2 linked regions of the Homo sapiens genome follow. The protein of the gene in region 1 purifies or fractionates together with the protein of each later gene. This does not show direct contact. Each region holds a gene or a part of one and is shown on either strand. Other genes may lie near its edges.

Region 1 (3,500 bases):
GTCAACTGAAGGAGGTCTTTGGAGTTTGCTTGCAATTTTGTTCTGAAGAGCAGGAACTATAGGAGAAGGCTGTCTCATGTGCTGAAAAATTTAAAAAATTTAAGAGCATATTTGCTTCATCACACTCACACACATATATACACACACACACACCCCTTATAGTTAAGAAAGTCATCTAAGAAGTTTAGATTGTTATTGCTTTTATTTAATAAAATGCTTTCTACAAAAGTCAGAAATTCAATTACATAAGATCAAACATGTTGGTTATGATAAACATAAATGGATTTAGACATCTTTATTAAAACAGTATGACTGTCAGATTAGGATTTAAAAAATCAACAAACACAAGTAAAGCAACAAAAAAGAAAAAATATAACAAAACTAAAGAATCATCTTTAATAATAAAAAGGTACCATGACAATACAAAAAAATTAAATAACAAAATCCTTCTGGAAAGCAATACAAATCAACCTCGAAAATCTAGATCTAATCACTAACAGCATCATGGATGAGGGACTTTTCAAGATCACGATGGGGTTCTATATTTCAGTTTATAGTGTATTAAACCTTATAGTCCAAAAACTTCATTGTAAATACAACATAGACATTCTAAATCCCTGTAGAGGATGGAGCAAACAAGCCATAGTACACATAACAAAAGACCAAAAAGCTATCAAGGAAGAAAAACACAAAAAAGTCAGAAATGCAATTAATGCAAAGACATTAGTTTTGATAAACATAAATGGATTTAGATATCCCTATTTTAAAAGATTAGGCCAGGTGCAGTGGCTCATGTCTATAATCCCAGCACTTTGGGAGGCCAAGCAGGCAGGTCACCTGAGGACAGGAGTTCAAGACCAGCCTGGCCAACATGGTGAAACCCCGTCTCTAATAAAAATTAGCCAGGTGTGGTAGTTTGCACCTGTAATTCCAGCTACTGGGGAGGCTAGGGCAGGAGAATCACTTGAACCTGGGAGGCGGAAGTTGCAGTGAGCCGAGATTGCACCACTGCACTCCAGCCTGGGCAACAAAGCGAGTCTCTATTTCTAAATAAATAAATAAATAAATAAAAATAAAAAGATTATAACTCAGATTAGGATTTTAAAAATTCAACAAACTAAAGATAGAAGCTAACTAAATAAAAAATATGGTGACACAAAGGTAAAACTGAAGGAATAGACAAAAATATATATATATATCAGACATACATAAATGAAAGAAAATGATAGCAATGTTAATTTCAGAAAGGCAAATGCATTAAATGGGATAAAGCTGATTTAAAACTTTATGGTACTTTACAATTAAATTATAATATCATAAAAGTATATATTCCTTAAAAAATAGCATTTTTAAAAAACATAAGAAATTACAAGAAATATAATTATGGGAAACTAACAATTCTGTTTAATTCTTTTTTTTTTTTTTTTGAGATGGAGTCTCGCTCTGTCACCCAGGCTGGAGTGCCACAGTGCAGTCACGGCTCACTGCAACCTCCGCCTCCCAAGTTCAGGCGATTCTCTTGCCTCAGCCTCCTGAGTAGCTGGGACTACAGGTGCCTGCCACCACGCCCAGCTAATTTTTGTATTTGTTATAGAGACGGGGTTTCACCATGTTGCCCAGGCTGGTCTCGATCTCCTGGCCTCAAGTGATCCGCCTGCCTCGACCTTAAATTCTTAAATGATGAATTTTACAATAAAAAATTATCTGTGAGGCAGGGTGTGGTGGCTCACACCTGCAATCCCACCACTTTGGGAGGCTGAGGCAGGAGGATAACTTGAGCCCAAAAATTTGAGATCAGCCTGGGCAACATAGCAAGACCTGGTCTCTTAAAACAAAAAGAAAGAAAAAGAAAAAGAAAAAGAAAAGAAAAGAAAAGAAAAGAAAAGAAAAGAAAAGAAAAGAAAAGAAAAGAAAAGAAAAGAAAAGAAAAGAAAGAAGGAAGGAAGGAAGGAAGGAAGGAAGGAAAGGAAAGAAAGAAAGAAAGAAAGAAAGAAAGAAAGAAAGAAAGAAAGAAAGAAAGAAAGAAAGAAAGAAAGAAAAAGAAAGAAAGAAAGAAAGAAAGAGAGAGAAGGCCGGGCGTGGTGGCTCACTCCTGTAATCTCAGCACTCTGGGAGGCAGAGGTGGGTGGATCATCTGAGGTCAGGAGTTTGAGACCAGTCTGGCCAACATGGTGAAACCCCGTCTCTGCTAAAAATACAAAAATTAGCTGGGCATGATGGCGTGTGCCTGTAGTCCCAGCTACTTGAGAGGCTGAGGCAGGAGAACTGCTTGAACCCAGGAAGTGGAGGTGCAGTGAGCCAAAATTGTGCCACTGCACTCCAGAGCCTGGGCAACAGAGCGAGATTATGTCTCAAAAAAAAAAAAAAAAAAAAAAAAAAAAAGAATACATATATATATATATATAAACCACTCTCACTTTCTGTATTAGTCTTGTCATGAACCATAACAAACAGTTCATGTTGTACTGTCTGCAGACCATATTCTTGGGTGGCACCGCATACACCATGGGAATGAGACTAAGAATGGCTCAAGTAAGTAAATCCATTACCTTCAATGGACAGAAAATACCAACAAAGCACAGTGACAGTACCTCCTACAGAAAGTTCAGTACATTGTGCCCAGACTAAACAGTAAGACAGAACAGGAACAAAAGCACCTCCTCCTCTTTCTCCCCTTTTCTAACAACTGTACAACTCTCACAGTGAAAGTGAGTTAAACTATGGGTTTGATTGACATTTTTGTCTGAAACTTACCTTTGTTTCTTCCCCAATCAAATTGTCTCTTTCACAGTAGTGCTGAAGTTGCAGGTTATATTTTTCTTCTTCTTCTTTCTTCTTTCTTTCTGCTTCTTTTTGTCTTTCTTCAGCTAACCGAATATGCTCTTCATTTTTTAGCCTTTGCTTTAAAATAAAAAGAGAAATATGCATTCCATATATTCCTTCTATAGTACATTCAAAAATGTGCTGCCTTATTTATCTGATAAAATGAGATAAAGATATAGATGACATGATATGGTGTTCTTTAACATAAGTTGTCTGCTTAAAAATAAAATATTAGGCATCTTTTATAAAGTCTTCAGTCAGCCTACATCTATATTTTTAAAGTCATCACTTATCTCCTTTCTTAAATTACCCTTTCACCTTAATAAAATAATATCCAAAGAATGTATATTGATCTGATATTTTCTAAATGTACTCCAACACTGTTCTCCTTTATAAGTAAGAAATACCTTTTCAAGTCAAAGATTTCACCTTCAGACTAAGTAGTAAAATACAATAGGGAAAAAAGATGTACCTCCTCCTCTTTCTCTCTTTTCTTTTCCTGTTCCTCTTCATACTCCTGCTGAATTCGTGCCCTCTGTTCTGCAAGCCGTCTTTCTTCTTTTTCTTCTGCAATTCTCAGTCTCTCTCGCTCTGCTTCCTCTCTTTGTTTCTTTTCCTCAATCTAAAGAATTAAACTTAGTTATTTATCTTGTAAAACTATTGAAAAGTTAGAATAT
Region 2 (3,500 bases), on another chromosome or scaffold:
CTGGTTTATATATTTATTATACTATACTATTTATTACTATTCAAGTTATTTTAGAGTGTACTCCTTCTACTTATTTAAAAAAACATTAATTATCTGACAGCCCCAGGCAGGTCCTTCAGGGGGTATTCCAGAAGAAGGCATTGTTATCATAGGAGATGACAGCTCCATGCCTGTTATTGCCCTTGAAGACCTTCTAGTGGGACAAGATGTGGAGGTAGAAAACAGTGATATTGATGATCCCAACCTTGTGTAGGCATCAGCTAATATGTGTGTTTGTGTCTTCGTTTTTTAAAAGAAGTTTAAAAAGTTTTAAAAACATTTTTTAATAGGAAGAAAGGTTACAGACTAAGGATATAAAGAAAATAGTTTTCTACAGCTGAATACATGTTTATGTTTGCAGCTATTACAAAAAAGTAAAAAGTTAAAAAAATTTTAAATGTTTATGAAGTTAAAATGTTACAGTAAGCTAAGGCTAATTTATTATTGAAGAAATAACATTTTAAAAAATAAATGTAGTGTAGTCTAAGTGCAGTGTTGATAAAGTCTACAGCAGTGTATGGTAATATCTTAGGTCTTCAAATTCACTCACCACTCACTCACTGACCCACCCAGAGCAACTTCCAGTCCTACAGTTCCATTCATGATAAGTGTCCTATTCAAGTGTACAATTTTTACCTTTTCTACTGTATTTTTACTGTACCTTTTCTATCGTTTCTACTGTATTTTTACTCTACCTTTTCTGTGTTTAGATGTGCTTAGATACAAATACATGAATACTTACCACTGTCTTACGAGGGAGGGAGGGAAAAGAAGGGAAAGGGAGAGAGAGAGAGAGAGAGAGAGAGAGAGAGAGAAGAGAGCCATCCAGAATAAAACAAAGCAAATATAGCCAAAATGACATTTGGGGAATGTAAGTAAAGGGTATATAAAAAATTTCTGTATTATTCTTGCAACTTTTCTGTAAGACTGAAATTATTTCAAAATAAAAAGTTTAACTAAAGAACTTATTTATGTAACCAAACACTGCCTGTTCCCAAAAACCTATTGAAATAAAAATAAATAGCTTAAAAACAAAATAGAAATAAAAAACAAGATCATTTCAGCTAGTGATAAGTACTAAAAGGAAAATAAAAAATGGTAATACTACAAAAAATACCTGGGATGGGGTGTGGGGACTGTAGCATAGTCCTTAAATTGGGAAGTCAGAGAAATTAACATCTGAACTAAGACCTAAACTAAAAATAGAAGCCAGCCATCTGAAGATTTGGGCAAAGAATTCCAGGCAAAGATATTCCACATGCTCTAAGGTGAAAATGCACTCGTGACTTCAAGATACAGGTAAAGACTAAATGCATGTGAAAAATTGTTCAATGTTATTCATAATTTAAAAATTAACTAAATAGTTGAGTCACTTCATTTCTTAAGAGATGGCAAAGAACGGGTCCAGGGGGTACCAATATCCAGTGGGTACCCTGCTTTTCCAGATGTCAATTTCCCAGCATAAGAAATTTTAAAACATTGACACCAAGCAATTCTTGTTTGAAAGTTTATCTTAAAGAAATAATCAGAAAGGCAAAGATTTATGAAAAAGGTTGTAATATTATTTATTTATAGCATAACACTGGAAACAACATAAACTGCCATTACTATAGGAATGCTGGAAGAAAACTATGATACCTCTATATGGGAGAATTCTATGCAGCCATTGGGCTTATGACATAAAGTTAGATAAAAATGTATACAAACAAAAAATGGTATCTATATCCATCTCTTATAAAGAAAATATTATCTAAACCAACACTGGGACAAGGAAATGCCAGTTACCTTGCCTTAAGATGACAGGATTATGATTTTTTTAATATTATGGAATTATGATTTTATACTAACCTTGCTAAGTACATTTTTTGAAATTTTTCTAATTTTTTTTACAATGGGCATGTTTTTCATAGACATTTATAACAGAAATATCCAAATATTGCCAAATATCAAAAACTCATAAATTAGAAAAACTGTAGCACGGTATCCTTAATTTACCAATAACTATACATTTTCTATCCACATTCAACTCTAAATACTAATCCAACTCTAAATACTGCAATTTCAGGATTCTTTTCCAAGGAATTTAATGATCCCAATTTTCTGTACTGAACTTATGAATGGAGTTCAAGGGTGCTGGGACCTTTGATAAACAGGAGATGTTTCTGTGGGAGGGAGAAGGCTGCAGAGGAGGAAATTTCTTTGAATTGGAAAAAATATGTTATTTTCTGTAGCTTGTTCTTTTAGAATTCATCCTCAGGTTTTCTAAAAGCTTCCCTGTCCTGTTCTAGGTAGGTTGTTTTGATAATATTTTTGATATTCAGTGAAAGGATGGGTAAGAATTATATTCACAATTTCAAGTGCCAGCTATAAAATTCAATTACTGCTCTATCAATGATGAAATCCATTCATTCATACATTTATTGAGAAAGGGTCTCATTCTGTCACCCAGGCTGGAGTGCAGTGGTGTGATCATAGCTCACTGCAACTCCCAACTCAAGCGAGGCTCAAGTGATCCAAGCAGCTGGGACTACAGGTGCACACCACCACTCCCAGCTAATTCTACTGTTTCATTTTTTTGTAGATGCAGCATTTCGCTATGTTGCCCAGGTTGGCCTTGAACTCCTGGCCTCAAGAGATCTTCCTGCCTCAACCTCCCAAAGCACTGGGATTATAGGCATAAGCAACTATGCCTGGCTTCAAATACATTTAGAATTATCAACATTAGAAATTTGATATAAATATATCATCTCTTTGTTTCTCTTCATAAGTGAGACAATGTAAATGTGTATATAACTGAAAATACTTTTTAAAAGAATCATTAAGGATGACTTGACTGTTTGTTGCTTGAAGAAGTGTGGTAATGCAGAAAGAACGGACTTTGGAATAAAATAAATCTAGGCCTCATTACTTTCTAGCTAAGTGCCTTAATTAAACTTGTTAACACCTTTGAACTGCTGTCTTCTCTTTGAAAATGGGGATACCTCACCTGCTACTGTGAGAATTAGAGCTAATGTAAGTTAAGTGCTTAACATATGCTTGAATCATCGCAAGTACCCGAAACCCAAAACAAACGAAAGACAAAACTTGACTGAATTTCCCCCTTTCTTCCAGCCCTGATTCCATGCTTCATATTTAAGTTCTACATCAGGATTTCTCAACCTTGGCATTATTGACATTTTGGGTTGGATAATCTGATTCTTAGCAGCATCTCTGGCTTTGTCTACTAGATATCAGTGGCGCTCCACTAATTGTGAAAATAAAAAATGTTTGCACACATTGCTAAATGTCCCCTGGGCTTCAAAAGTGCCCCAAGTTGATGACCACTAATCTATATAGACGACTAAAATATACAAACGGCATTTAATAGGGCCAACCAAAACAAGTGATCTCATTTTTCCCAGACTACTGAAAGCCAGTGATGGGAAGGGGAGAGGTAAATATTCCATTTTATATAAGGAATC

The links. Proteins that work in one complex are often made in the same cells at the same time.
Region 2: the proteins of CSPP1 (region 1) and HOMER1 purify together in Homo sapiens (affinity purification with mass spectrometry; 2 studies listed by BioGRID and IntAct, with this or other methods). This does not show direct contact.

The regions. Positions count from the first base shown.
Region 1 is NC_000008.11:67,158,392-67,161,891, reverse strand, and holds part of CSPP1 (centrosome and spindle pole-associated protein 1), read right to left. Parts: intron 3,446-3,500; coding exon 3,296-3,445; intron 2,902-3,295; coding exon 2,755-2,901; intron 82-2,754; coding exon 1-81. UniProt on the Homo sapiens protein: May play a role in cell-cycle-dependent microtubule organization.
Region 2 is NC_000005.10:79,392,135-79,395,634, forward strand, and holds part of HOMER1 (homer protein homolog 1), read right to left. Parts: intron 1-3,500. UniProt on the Homo sapiens protein: Postsynaptic density scaffolding protein. Binds and cross-links cytoplasmic regions of GRM1, GRM5, ITPR1, DNM3, RYR1, RYR2, SHANK1 and SHANK3.